4 linked regions of the Homo sapiens genome follow. The protein of the gene in region 3 purifies or fractionates together with the protein of the main gene of each other region. This does not show direct contact. Each region holds a gene or a part of one and is shown on either strand. Other genes may lie near its edges.

Region 1 (3,500 bases), on a different chromosome or scaffold from region 3:
CGTGATCACTGCTCACTACAGCCTCAATCTCCTGGGCTCAAGCAGTCCTCCTGCCTCATCCTCCAAAGTGGCTGGGACCACAGGCACATGCCACCATGCCTGGCTAATTTTTTTCATTTTTGTAGAGACAGGGTCTTACTATGTTGCTCAGGCTGGCCTTGAACTCTCAGCCTCAAGTGAGCCTTCTACCTCAGCCTTCCACAGTGCATGAGCCACTGTGCCTGGCCTAGTTTTTCACTGTTACACTTTTTCTGCTGAGTGACACTCTATTTCCATTTTCATTTTTATTTTTATTTCTTTTTACTATAACAGTTTGTACAATAAACATCCTGAGATGTTTTCTTGTGCACACATTTTTCTGTTACACACTTATTTAGTTAGTTGCTGGGTAATGAAGTTTAGGTAATATTGCATTTATTATTCATTCTTCAACAAATATTTAGGGTGCTTGTATGGTCTTGGCTATCTGTTGACTAAAAAAGTGAAACTGATTAAATTCTAAGAAGATTACATAGTTGGCTGGATTATTTTTTTCTTTTTTCTTTCTTTGTTTTAATTAAGAAAAGTGGGACTGGTGTAGTGTTGCATGCCTGTAATCCCAGCACTTTGGGAGGCCAAGGCAGGAGGATTGCTTGAACTCAGGAGTTCAAAACTAGCCTGGGAAACATGGTAAAACCTCATCTCTACAAAAAATACAAAAATTAGCTGGGTGTGGTGGTGTGCCTGTGGTCCTAGCTACTCAGGAGGCTGAGGTGGGAGGATTGCTTGAGTCCTGGATGTCAAGGCTGCAGTGAGCCTAGATTACACCACTGCATTGCAGCCTGGGCGACAGAGTGAGACCCTGTCTCAGCTCCCAGCACTTTGGGAGGCCGAGGCAGGTGGATCACCTGAGGTCAGGAGTTCGAGACCAGCCTGACCAACATGGAGAAACCCCGTCTCTACTAAAAATACAAAATTACCCAGGCGTGGTGGCGCATGCCTGTAATCCCAGCTACTCGGGAGGCTAAGGCAGATGAATCGCTTGAACCTGGGAGGTGGAGGTTGCAGTGAGCCGAGATCCCACCGGCCATTGTACTCCAGCCTGGGCAACAAGAGTGAAACTCCAACTCAAAGAGAGAAAGAAAAAGAAAAAGTGGCTCTTCATTGTAAAATTGAAGCATGAGACAAATCCATGGTGCTGTTTGGGATTCTTGTGCAGAAACCTTTTCTCAGCTACTCACTGGCCGTGTGACCTTGGATTACTCACCCAACCTCCTCTTCCTCATTTCTTTGGTAAGATTAAGGGGTAGGAGTAAGCATTTACAAAGGCACATTCCTGTTCTAAGAGTCTGTGAAAATGTTGCTGTGTTAGTGACGCATTTTTACCCTAATGGTAACCACTCAGGCTGAAAGGAGTTTAAGGCATTTAAACACATTGGCGTCCTCATTCCTTCAAATTGCTGGGCACATTCTTTTTTTTTTTTTTCCCTAAGTTCATGTCAGACACATGTTACACATGCAATCATCATGCTCGTGAATTCTGCAAAAGGATCACCAGGCGTCTTGCCTCAGAGCCTTTGCATGTGCTCTTCCCACTACCTGGAAAGCACTTCTCTTAGACGTCTACATGGCTGTGTCATCCCTTCAGGTGTTATGTTGAGACACCTCCTTCCAGTCCAGCCTGCAACCTCATCCCTGCTTTATTTACCTCCAAGGCACTTACCACCTTCTAGCTTGCCGTGTATAGGTTGAGTATTCTTTATTCCAGAATGCTTGGGACCAGAAGTGTTTCAGATTTTGGATATTTTTAAAATTTTTGGAGTATTTGTATTACATGGTTGAACATTCCTGATCCAAAAATTTGAAGTGCTCCGGTGGGTCTTTCCTTTGGTGTCGTGTAGGTGCTCAAAGAGTTTTGGACTTTGGAGCATTTCAGATTCAGATTCAGATTCCTGGTTTAGGGATACTCAATCTATAATTTATATCAGTATTCTGTACTAGATTATGAGCTCTACAAAGGCATGGGGTTTGCCACTCTTGTTTACTGTTGTATTCATGGTGTCTAGAACAATGTTGACCCCTAGCAGGTAAACAGATGTTTGATGAACAAATGGATATGCTTTTTGTTGTTATTTTTTCTCTGTGGAATTTCGCCTTTAACACTTACTGGATATCCTAAATGGTGCTGGTATGTGCACCATATCTCATATTTACAGATTCCTTCAGGGTAAGAAAACTTATGTCTTCTAGGGAAACCACTCCTTTTAAATCTATGTGATTTATCCTATAAGCCACTTAATGTCTTCAGACTTTTTTTCTCCCAACATTTTGCCTAATCCTGAATTTAGAGGAAAACATAAGTAACACGGTGCTTGGAAGCACACCCATCTTTCCTTTTGTGATAACCTGGTTTCCAATGCGATGAATGTGGAAGATGCATAACCAGTAGATGCTGACTGTATTCCACACGACATCTGCAGTAACAGGCCAGCAGCCATCCCAAGCAACATGAAGCACACTGCATTTCTTTCTTTTTTCTTGAGATGGGATCTTGCTCTGTTCTGGAACTCCTGGGCTCAAGTGATCCTCCCACCTCAGCTTCTCAAATAGTTGTGTCTACAGGCGCGTGCCAACACACCTGCCTAGTTTTTCTTTTACTTTTTACAAAGACAAGGTCTCCTTATGTTTTCCAGGCTGGTCTTGAACTCCTGGGCTCAGAAGGTCCTCCTGCTTCAGCCTCTTGAAGTGCTGGGATTACAGGCATGAGCCACTGCCCCCGGTCCACACTGCGTTTCTAAGAACAAACAGTGTATTTTGTTGGATTGTTGCAGAGTGTACATCATCATTGCCCTGACTTTGTGCTTTTATCTATGAGGATTTTTTTGGAGGGGGAGGAGGGATGTATTTTTCATGATGGAAGGAAAATGAGAACCTTAATCTGAAGATGTTGGAGCAACTAATATGTAGAAAGGTCCCTAGATATACTCTAAGAATTGCCACATCGTACAGTCCTTAATTCATGGCACAAAAAACATTCACTATTATAGCACTAATGCATTGTTTCAGTAGAAGCCAACTGAATTTTTTCTACCTTGCATGATGAGTATAGGAGTTGACAAAACAAAGCTAAATATATCAGAGGCCTCTTGGATGCATTTTATATGGTGATAGGGAAAAGGAGTCTAGATTTTTTTTCCCAGTGAACTATATTAGGTATACGATACTGATGATATCCTTTAAAACATTACTAGAATACTGAAGTACACCATTTACATTTCTTATTGTATCCTCTGTAATAAAATGATATTGAAAGAAATCAGTATATTATGGATCCAGATAGGGTTAAACTTTAAGCTGAAAATCATAAACATAGAATTATATGATTATTAGTAAAATGTTGCACAATTTAAACAGATTTTTTTTTTTTTTTTTTTTTTTTAGACACAGAGTCTCACTCTGTTGCCCACGCGGGAGTGCAATAGGGTGATCTCGGCTCACTGCAACCTCCGCCTCTCAAGTTC
Region 2 (4,265 bases), 5.2 Mb from region 3:
CTGAGCTCTCCCCAGGGGGGTGAGGTGAGGAACTGTGGGGGCAGGTGTTCTGGGGTCATATAAGCCTCAGCGTCCATCCTTTCCAAGGTCCCAGTGGTGCTGACGACCTTGACGCCCCCAGGTTTGAGCCATTGACCTTCCTTTGGCTTGCAGGTGGCTCTGGTGAGGGGCTTCAGTTCCTCCTGAGCTTGGAGAGCTCACTGCCTGCTCCCTTGTGAGGACTGCTAGAAATGCCCGCCTTGTTCTGAGCTAGCATTGGCCTCCCCCAGCCACCTTCAGAGGTTTGCAGGCTGTTCTCAGCCTTTCTCGATCTCCTCACCTTTGAGCCACCTCCAAGGAGAAGCCTTCTCTGCCTTCCTCCTTTCTCCACCTGACCTCCCATGATAGTAGGTGTTTCCTTCTTTTAAACACTGAACACAGTGAATCCTGGTTTGTCCCTCGAACCAGACCAGAGCTTTCTGAGTGAGAAATTGTATCTTAGTCATTTCTGTTTCTGCTCTGGGCACAAGCTTGTGTCAATGTAGGTTCTCAGCCAATCCTGTCTGAATCCAACCCCCAGGTGATCCCCAACAACTCTCAAAATAATCTAAGATTTCTGTGACCCTAGTGCCAAGCTCACCTGCCTACAAGTGTCTGAATCTAGTTTACCTTCCCTGTCTCATCACTGCACCCATCTCTCCTGGACTCCTGCTGCAACCTTCCTCCCTGTCCAGTGAATTTCGCCCTCCTCCTCCCATCCCAGTCGCCACAATTGGCAAATATCAACCAAAAGGAAAAAAGATGGGAAACAAGTTTTTTTTTTTTTTTTTTTTTTTTTTTTTAAGGCGGAGTCTCACTCTGTTGCCCAGGCTGGAGTGCAGTGGTGTGATTTCGGCTCACTGCAACCTCCGCCTCCCGGGTTCAAGCGATGCTCCTGCCTCAGCCTTCTGAGTAGCTGAGACTACAGGCGCACACCACCACGCCAGGCTATTTTTTTTTTCTTTTTTATACAAGAGTTTTGCTCTGTCGCCCAGGCTGGAGTGCAATGGCGCTATCTCAGCTCACTGCAACCTCCGCCTCCTCGGTAAGAAAACTGTCATGACAGAGAGGTTAAGACTCTAGTCCAAGGTCTGTGCTAAAGCCAGCCCAGCGGACTGTCGGCAGAATGAACCAACGGGAAAGAGGTCAGAAGGAGCCAGATCCGCCAGTGCCAGCCCTCTCCAGGGCTCCCTGGGGACCCCCAGCGGGCAAGGGCTGCAGGCGGCCCAGGCTAAACGTGCAGTGAGTCCCGCTCTCAGAGGTATCTGCGCCCCGCCTGCCTCCGCCCCGCCCCTTGTTCTGGTTTGTCCAGTCCCACAGAGTCCCACAGTCTTCATGTAAATGAGGCACCCAGAGAGAGCCTATGCGAGCGTGGCAGGGGCGTGGCCTTCCACCTCCCGAGCATCGCTCTGATTCATTGTTAAAATAAAGAGGCCATGACCCTGGCACTCCCACCCCGGCAGCCCCTGTGCGTGGAAACCCAGCCAAGGTTAGCACTGGGCCTCAGAAAAGAGGAGCTGGTAGGGGGAGGCCTACAGGAGGGGTAGGGGTCGAGGGATCCGGGGAGGAACTGGCTGAATGCCTGGATGGAGAGGGTCCCGGGTCCATTCTCTGGGTGGGGCATGTGTAGCTGCTTAAGGTTTTGATTATTATATCCACATCTCAAGTGCATTTTAGAGAAGGATTCTGCCTATTGGTTGTGGGTAGGGGAGGAAACGGGAGCAGCGAGGGGCACGTGGAGTAGAGCCCCCTACCCACCCCCAGGAAAATGAGCGGCGTTCTCCTGCTAGGCGACGCTCCTTTATGTGGCCAGACCAGGAGAGAAACGCCCAGGACGGGCGGGGCCGATGCGCCCCTCTTCCACCACCAGGAGTCGGGAGGACGACCGCCCGGGGAGGATCAGAGACCCTGGGGCCACGGAAGGACCAGTGGGTAGCCCTCTCCCCACCGTGCCTTGCTGTCGCCCCCACCGCATTCCCTTCTCCAGGTCTGATGATGGAGGAGCCTTGGCCCTGGCTGTCCCAGGGGAGGAGGTGAAATTCCTCAGCTCTCCACCAAGATTGGCCACAAAAGCCTGATCCCCTGGAACACAGCAGGTGAGGATGGATGTGGGCAGGTGACCTGGGGGCACCAAAAGCTGCAGGTGTTTTGGGATGTTGGGTTCCTCCCACCCCCCACCCTCCCCCTGGGGCTCTGTGTGAGTGGGGAGGCCATCTTTAAGTGATTCTCCTGACCCAGCTCCACTCCAGGGCATGGATGTTGGTGGCCTTAGGGGCACCCAGAAAGGAGAACCCTTGCACAAGTAAGATACCAGGGCGGCCGGGCGCGGTGGCTCAAGCCTGTAATCCCAGCACTTTGGGAGGTCGAGGTGGGTGGATCACAAGGTCAGGAGTTCGAGACCAGCCTGGCCCATATGGTGAAACCTCGTCTCTACCAAAAATACAAAAAAATTATCCGGGCATGGTGGCACATGCCTGTAATCCCAGCTATTTGGGAGGCTGCGGCAGGAGAATTGCTTGAATCCGGGAGGCAGAGGTTGCAGTGAGCCGAGATCGCGCCACTGCACTCCAGCCTGGGTGATAGACCGAGATTCTGTCTCAAAAAAAAAAAAAAAAAAAGAAAGAAAGACACCAGGGTTTCAGAAGGGTATGATGCTTCACACCTGTAATCCCAGCACTTTGAGGGAAGGAGGAGGATTACTTGAGGTCAGGAGTTCAGGAGTTCAAAACCAGCCTGGGTAACACTGCAAGAGCCTTTTTTTTTTTTTTTTTTTTTTTTGAGACACACTGTTGCCCAGGCTGGAGTGCAGCGGGGCGATCTTAGCTCCACTGCAACCTCCACCTCCTGGGTTCAAGCAATTCTCTTGCCCCAGCCTCTTGAGTAGCTGGGATTACAGGCATGCGCACCACGCCCAGCTAATTTTTATAGTTTTAGTAGAGACAGGGTTTCATCATGTTGGGCAGGCTGGTCTTGAATTCCTGGCCTCAAGTGATCTGCCTGCCTCAGCCTCCCAAAGTGCTGGGATTATAGGCGTGAGCCACCGCACCTGGCCAAGAGCCCATTTTTACAAAATAAAAAAGAAAAAAATTAGCTGGGCGTGGTGGCGTACACCTGTAGTCCCAGTTACTCAGTCCCAGAGACTGAGGCAGGAGAATCATTTGAGCCCGGGAGTTTGAGGTTGCAAGGAGCTATGATCGAGCCACTGCACTCCAGCCTGGGTGACAGAGCAAGACCCTGCCCCCACCTCCCCAAAAAAGACATTAGGGGCCGGATGCAGTGGCTCACACCTGTAATCCCAGCATTTTGGGAGGCCGAAGGGGGCGGATCACCTGAGGTCAGGAGTTCACCTGGCCAACATGGCGAAACCCCGTTGCTACTAAAAATACAAAAATTAGCCAGGCATGACGGTGCATGCCTGTGATCCCAGATACTACTGGGGAGGCTGAGGTAGAATTGCTTGAACCCAGGAGGCGGAGGTTGCAGTGAGCCGAGTGAGCCAAGATCACATCACGGCACTCCAGCCTAGGTGACAGAGAGAGACTTCGTCTCAAAAAAACAAAACAAAACAAAACGAAAACACATTAGGATTTCTTTTTGGCTAAGTTCTGCCACAAACTTGCTGTGTGACTTTAGGCTGTTCACGTTTGTCAAAGACGTCGTCCTCAACTCTGAAAATACCTGGCCAGCTTTTTGCCTCCCTCGCTGTGCTTCCCAAGGGACCTGTGCGAGTTGGCAGTATGATCCAGTGCTCCTCACTTCCACCTCCGAGAGAGCAGGGACACACACAGCCCTGGATTTGAATCAGCCACTGCGACCTTCAGTGACCGAAGGAACCTCTCTGAGCCTTAGTTGCCTGATCTAAAATTGGCATTAATTTGATCTACAATGCAGCTATAAGACAAGGACACTCAAACTTTGGGGCGCACTAGAATCACCTGGGGAATCACTTTTTTTTTTTAAGACAGAGTCTCACTCTTATCACCCAGGCTGGAGTACAGTGGTGCAATCTTGGCTCACTGCAACCTCCGCCTCCTGGGTTCAAGTGATTCTCCTGCCTCAGCCTCCCGAGTAACTGGGACTACAGGTGCATACCACCATGCCTGGCTAATTTTGTATTTTTAGTAGAGACAGGGTTTGGCAATATTGGCCAGGCTGGTCTCGAACTCCTGACCTCAGGTGATCTGCCCGCCTCGGCCTCCCAAAGTGCTGGGATTATAGGCGTGAGCCACTGCGCCTGGCCAGGAATC
Region 3 (2,877 bases):
CTGGCCAGAAGTAGGAGGTCCTTCAGGTTGGAACAACCAAAGATAAATGGAACCACGTTAATACATTAGAGCCACAGGGAGATTCCAGAACAGCGCCAGGGGCTCCTTCTCAGGGTCTCAGGAAGGGTTGACACATGGCACCGTGCACAAGTCATCAGCCAGGTGCTGGGGATAAAATGACAGGTATGACTGTCAGACATGGTCCCTTCCCCTCGCAGCCTGGAAGTTGCAGAGGAGAGGGATTAGCAAAGGCAGAGAGACCCCAGAGACAGCTGCTGGGAGCAAGGCGGCCGGGGCCCTGGGGAGGGGACAGAAGAGGCCCAACGTGAGGGAGGGGCACAACCGAGGGACGATTCCTGCCACCTGGCCAGGGTGGTGAGGAAGGCACAGCCCTATGGAGCTGGATGCCGCAGTCTCAGTGGGAGCCACTGTGGCAGCTGAGAGCAGCTTGTTCCAAATTACTGTGTGAGACTGTCATCTCTAGGTCTGTCAGAGGCCCATGACCAAAGAGGCAACTTAAAATGCATGCATTTAGTAGAGAAATGACCAGGCCCTCGGCCTGCCCGCCACAGAATGCCTGGCCCTCCACCCTCTGTGGGCTCAAAGCTCGTGAATGCGGCTCTGTAGCCCACCGTCGGTGTCATACCTCTCATGGAGACGGCTCCCTCTTTGTCTTGCAGGGGATGAGCTGACCAAGATGGAGGACGAGGATGAGCAGGGCTGGTGCAAGGGACGCTTGGACAACGGGCAAGTTGGCCTATACCCGGCAAATTATGTGGAGGCGATCCAGTGATGAGTCGGGGACAGGCCAGCGGGGGGACGGAGGCGGCGGGCCCAGGAGCCTCAGCCAGCCACGTGGGCATCCACTCCTTTTCCTGCAAGAGATGATGGTTCCATTGCTCTTGGCTTCATGGTGTTCCTGGAAGGCAGATGAGCTGGTCATTTCGCCTGGGACTCGGCACCTTTCCGAGTGCAGCTGGAGGGATCTGAGCGCAGGAAGACGCAGAACAACAGAAATAGCCGCCCCTCCCCGCCCACTGTGCCTGTTGGCCTATCATAGATCTCTATGTTCTTGACTTTGTCTCTCCTTTCCGAGTCAATGGTGGGTTACACTGATCTTGTTCCACTGATTACTCTCTCTGACGAGTCCATCACCTGCAACTTAAATGAACAAGCTTACATCCCATTTTGAGTGAAGATTTTGAGGTTTTTAATTTAAAGGCTGTGTACAGTTATACTTTTTTATACACCTGTTCATTTCTACTTAAATTATGGCACAGATTGATGCGCACCAGTCTTGAGGAAACGATCTCCCTATTCCCTTACCCTGTTACTCAGCCACGCCGTGTGTAGGCTTAGCCTCAGGTGGCAGATGTTTGAGGAAAGGAATTATGCCAGGAAGGTGGGACCGGGTTATGGTCGGGTTTCTATTGGGAATGCTCTTTGTGCTTTTGGGCATCTGAATGGAAGCTTTACATAGAACCTTAGGTAGAACTCCCCCAAATCGCCATATTTAAAAATTATTTTCACTCTATTCTTGCTTAAAACTGTACTCTTTTGCAAATTAACAATTTTATCACTGATTCAGAGTTAAAAAGAAGACTAACTTTTCAAGCAAATGCATCTGTAAAGATGCTTTAGATTAGACTGTCATGTCTCAGTGTCTATCTGTATATATTATTTGATATTCAGAGAATCTAAAGCACTCGTCTACTGTTTTAATGAGATTTAACAGCTTTTAACAGTGAGTTTCGTTTGTAAACTGCTTGAAGTCTGTGGCATTCAGGCACACGTCTGGCTGGCCGGCTGGGTCTCCTCCCGGGCTCAGTGGGCCTGGGGCCTCTCTGACGTGGTGCCTGCTGGAGGGAGGCTCGTCGTCACCAGCTGACTGCTGGTCCGGCTTCTGACCGGCCTTTGTCCTGGCTCCGTAGCAGAACACTGTAAAAGTGCCCGCGTCTTTGCAGTAGTTGCAGATTTCAGTCGTCGTGTTACTTGTGCACAAACAGAAGCTGGGTCTTACCCGCAGCACGAGTGTCTCGGGCTGCCCGGAGTCGCCCGGGAGCAGGTGCTGCAGCCAGAGTTACGCGGGGGCCACGCGGGCCGGCGGGGGTGGGGGGAACGTGGGGGAACCTGTGTTTCACGTGACTCAGCAGTGCCCGCCGCCGTCACCAGCTATGCATTCACTCCGTTTCCAGTGAGCAGATGTCTTGCTTGGAAAGTGGACCTGTGTCTGTGTCTGTCCTGAGAACTTACCAGCAGAAATCCTCATTTCTGTGCTACGGATTTACCAAAAATTGTCAAGTCTTTTTCAGTTTAACAGTTCCTTTACATGTGTAGTATTTGAGGAAAAAAATCAATAAACAGTTGATCTCGTGCATATGGAAGTCCCTTCGCCATCATCTGTCTTCATGCCCACTTCACTTGGCGGGGGTGGCCTCCCTGGGGCTTACTAGCTTTGGAGCTGGGCAAGATCCAGGGCACAGGACCCCTGCCCAAAAGGCCACGGCCCACTGCCCCTGCCAAACTGGAGGTTGGGGATTTGAGGCACCTGAGCCCCTTGGGGTTCCCTTCTCCCCGAGACCTGCTGCTGTTTGACCTGGGCTTCCACATGGTGCGGGCATCGGCTGGCGCCTCTCTATTGCCCCAGCCCAAACAGCAGGACAAGACTGACATCACCCATAACTCTCCTATGAGCACATTTTCCTGAGCACCTACTGTGTGCTCTCCACTTTTTACTTACATTATCTGCGTCTCCAAACATCTCCACAGGGTATGGGCAAGTCTCCCCATTTCCATTCTACCGAGGAGGAAACAGAGGCTCCAAGAGCCAGCCAGGGTTTCTTGAGGAGTCTCAGCCAGCCCAAAGCACTGAGCGAA
Region 4 (3,500 bases), 4.9 Mb from region 3:
CCTGGGGTGACAGTGGGACAGGGGTTCCCCACAAGCAAGTGCACCCGGGGTTCTGCCCCCTCCCTCTAACACACCCAGAGGGGCCAGCAGAGCCAAGCAGCCCAAAGCCCCTGAGCCCCTCAAAGGTTTTCAGCCTTTTCTCAGCCCCAAAACTTCAGACCAATATTCACGCAGCCCAGGACACGAAACACGAGAATCCGAAGGTGACCCACCCCCGTGCCCTCCACCACCAAGGAACCAGGGGGTCTTTCGAGCACTCAGGACACTTGGTGCCGCCAGCCCCTCACCATCTGTGGGAGCCCGAGGCCCAGAGGAGGATGGGGCCTGCTCAAGGACACACAGCAGGTGGGAGGCAGAGCCAGAATCAATGCCCAAGAGGCTCTTGCCGGGACCAGGGAAGGTTCAACGATGCCTGAGGCACATGGGCAGGGTCAGGCTACAACTTCAGCTGCCCCACAAAGGCTGTCCTGCCACCCTCTACCTGGGGCCAGATGAGCCTTGGGAGCTCAGAGGCCTGCAGAGCGTTGGGCCATCCAAAGGCGCTGTGGCTGCAAGACAGGGCCCTCATGAACTGGGTGCCCAGAGGAAAGTACTGAGCCCAGGCAATCCCCAGGTTCTCAGTATGGGGCTGAGAAACAGGTGAGCCCACAGCACACAGCATACCTGGAACAGGAGCAGCCTGGATGGGTGCCCAGCCAGAACCTCCCCACGCCCATGTCACCTGAGAAAAGACAGAGCCCAGCAAGGGAGCAGGAGGACAGGATAGGGCCACGTCTGCTCTCCTCGGTAAACACCCCTCATGGCACACAACAGAAGCACCCAAGAAAGCTGTGTGTCCTGGGTCCTTCTGCCTGTTGAGGGCTGACCCCCTGCCCACTACAAACTCCACACACAGCAGCATGTACATTATAGCACCTCCCCCTGACCTGGCTGGGAGCGCCTTGGGGACAGGGACCACTATGTCCACATGACCTGTGGAGCCCAGGCAGCCATGCACATGGGAGGCATTCAGAGACCCCAGCTCCCCTGTTCCATGGCGGGGAGACCCAGGTCTCTGCAGAAGGGAGTGAATCCCTCCCCTCTGTGCTCTACTCTAGGTCACCTTCCAAAATGCCCATTATGCCTATCTCCCTGAGCAGATCGTGAGCCCCTGGAGGCCAAAGACAGGGTCTTTTTTTTTTCTGAGACAGAGTCTCATTCTGTTGCCCAGGCTGTGGGCCATCTCAGCTCACTACAACCTCCACCTCCCAGGTTCAAGCAATTCTCCTACCTCAGCCTCCCAAGTAGCCAGGATTACAGGTGCCTGCCACCACACCTGGCTAATTTTTGTATTTTTAGTAGAGATGGGGTTTCACCATGTTGGCCAGGCTGGTCTCAAACTCCTATCCTCAAGTGACCTGCCTGCCTCAGCCTCCAAAGTGCTGGGATTACAGGTGTGAGCCACCACGCCCAGCCAGGATAGGGTTTTAATACAACTCTGCCCAGGGTCTGGCATCAGTAGAGCCTGAGTGAATGGAAGAGCGGACAGACAATACGGGATGACTGGTGGCTGGTGAGTGGAACCCAAATAGGCAAGTGGAGGGGATGGGAGGCAAACAGGGGCCCTGATACATAAGACCTGGGAGGCTATGTTTGTGGACAGGTGGATAGATAGGTGGGAGCTCTGGCAGATGGATGGAAGCATGGACAGACGGGTTTGTGCCTCATTGGACAGAGTGGGTAATGGGTAGATAGACTGGCCAAGGCCACTCAGGAAGTCAGAGGCCAGTAAAGATAGAAAAGGCCCTAGACAGCCGGGGGCAGTGGCTCACGCCTGTAATTGCAGCACTTTGGGAGGCCAAGGCGGGTGGATCGTGAGGTCAGGAGATCGAGACCATCTTGGCTAACACGGTGAAACCCCGTCTCTACTAAAAATACAAAAAATTAGCTGGGCATGGTGGCGGGCGCCTGTAGTCCCAGCTACTCGGGAGACTGAGACAGAAGAATGGTGTGAACCTGGGAGGCGGAGCTTGCAGAGAGCCGAGATCACACCACTGCACTCCAGGCTGGGTGATAGAGCGAGACTCCGTCTCAAAAAAAAATAAAAAAGAAGGCCAAGCATGGTGGTTCATGCCTGTAATCCCAGCACTTTGGGAGGCTGAGGCAGGCGGATCACGAGGTCAGGAGATCGAGACCATCCTGGCTAACGGGGTGAAAACCCCACTCTACTAAAAATACAAAAAATTAGCCGGGCGTGGTGGTGGGCGCCTGTAGTACCAGCTACTTGGGGGCTCAGGCAGGAGAATGGCGTGAACCCAGGAGGCAGAGCTTGCAGTGAGCCAAGATCGCGCCACTGCACTCCAGCCTGGGTGACAGAGAGAGACTCCATCTCAAAAAAATTAAGAAAAGGCCCTGGACATTTCTGCCCTGAGACCAGACCCGCATCCACTAGAGAGGATGTCACTTTTAGTGAGGGTGAGGGGGCACTCACCTTTACCTGCAGCTGTGGGGACGAGCTTCCAGGGGAAGGCACCGGGCTCCTGTCTCCAACCAACAAGAGAGGCGTTGGGGTGGCGCCACTGCAGGGCTTGGCTGGCTGGGGACCTGAGCTGCCCCTGGTCCTGGGGGCAAGGCCAGGGCTGGCTTGAGGCATTTGTTCCACTCTAGGCTCCACTAGTTCCCCAGAGGAGGCCAGGGAGGAGTTGGTAGAGAGGCTGACAGGGTTTCCAGGGGTACCAGGGGCATGGACAGCAGGCTCTGAGGAGCTCTTGGGCACAGCTGGCGGCTCCAGAAGCTCTGCACCTGCAGTCTGGCTGGCGCTCTCAGACGACAGGCTCTCCACGCTGAGCGCTGGCGATGGTGTGGCCGAGGGCGGCTCCGAGTGCGAGAGGCGGGAGGCGTGGAGAGCTGTGCGGACGAGCACCAGGACACCTCACAAGGGGAGCACCACAAGGGCTTCCAGCCCCACCTCCCGGCTCCACTCTCAACAGAGCCGCAGGCAGCCCCAGAAACCCAAGCCCTCCACATCGAGACAGGGCCAAGGCCCAGGGAACAGCAAACGCCCGGCAGGACGGAAGTCATGAGGTGCATCCAGCCACCCGAGTCCAACCCGCCCGCCTTGCGTTCTGCCTGCTGCCTCCACTTCCCCACACTCCCCATAGCCCCCATGAGGGCACCCACAGCAAAACCACCTTGGGAATGCCAGAGGAAGAGAGGTGGCCCCTCCTCTGCCCCTGATCTGCAGTGCGGAGGCAGAGGGGAGGAGCACGCAGCCCTCGCAGCCACCAGCTCTGGGACAGGCACTGCCGGGCACCAATTTATCTCCTCGTGGCTGATGGATATGATGCTTCCAAACACATTATCTGCATTTTCCAGATGAGGCAACAGGCTTAGAGAGGAGAGGGCACTCGCCCCAGCACGGGGTGGGACTGAATCCACTGTATCTGACTCCAGAGCTCATGCTCCTCTGCTGTCCCCTGAAGCTGCCCACCACTTCCACCCAGACAGGCCAGCCTCAGCTG

Evidence for each region.
Region 1: the proteins of PACSIN2 (region 3) and RAI14 purify together in Homo sapiens (affinity purification with mass spectrometry; 3 studies listed by BioGRID and IntAct, with this or other methods). This does not show direct contact.
Region 2: the proteins of PACSIN2 (region 3) and TRIOBP purify together in Homo sapiens (affinity purification with mass spectrometry; 2 studies listed by BioGRID and IntAct, with this or other methods). This does not show direct contact.
Region 4: the proteins of PACSIN2 (region 3) and MICALL1 purify together in Homo sapiens (affinity purification with mass spectrometry; 2 studies listed by BioGRID and IntAct, with this or other methods). This does not show direct contact.

What each region holds. Positions count from the first base shown.
Region 1 is NC_000005.10:34,659,328-34,662,827, forward strand, and holds part of RAI14 (ankycorbin), read left to right. Parts: intron 1-3,500. UniProt on the Homo sapiens protein: Plays a role in actin regulation at the ectoplasmic specialization, a type of cell junction specific to testis. Important for establishment of sperm polarity and normal spermatid adhesion.
Region 2 is NC_000022.11:37,695,583-37,699,847, forward strand, and holds the start of TRIOBP (TRIO and F-actin-binding protein), read left to right. Parts: upstream 1-1,465; 5' UTR 1,466-1,507; intron 1,508-2,005; 5' UTR 2,006-2,114; intron 2,115-4,265.
Region 3 is NC_000022.11:42,869,273-42,872,149, reverse strand, and holds the end of PACSIN2 (protein kinase C and casein kinase substrate in neurons protein 2), read left to right. Parts: exon of another isoform or gene 1-165; intron 166-646; exon of another isoform or gene 647-680; coding exon 681-793; 3' UTR 794-2,377; downstream 2,378-2,877.
Region 4 is NC_000022.11:37,926,797-37,930,296, reverse strand, and holds part of MICALL1 (MICAL-like protein 1), read right to left. Parts: exon of another isoform or gene 3,358-3,500; intron 3,342-3,357; coding exon of another isoform or gene 3,171-3,341; intron 2,887-3,170; coding exon 2,471-2,886; intron 1-2,470. UniProt on the Homo sapiens protein: Lipid-binding protein with higher affinity for phosphatidic acid, a lipid enriched in recycling endosome membranes. On endosome membranes, acts as a downstream effector of Rab proteins recruiting cytosolic proteins to regulate membrane tubulation.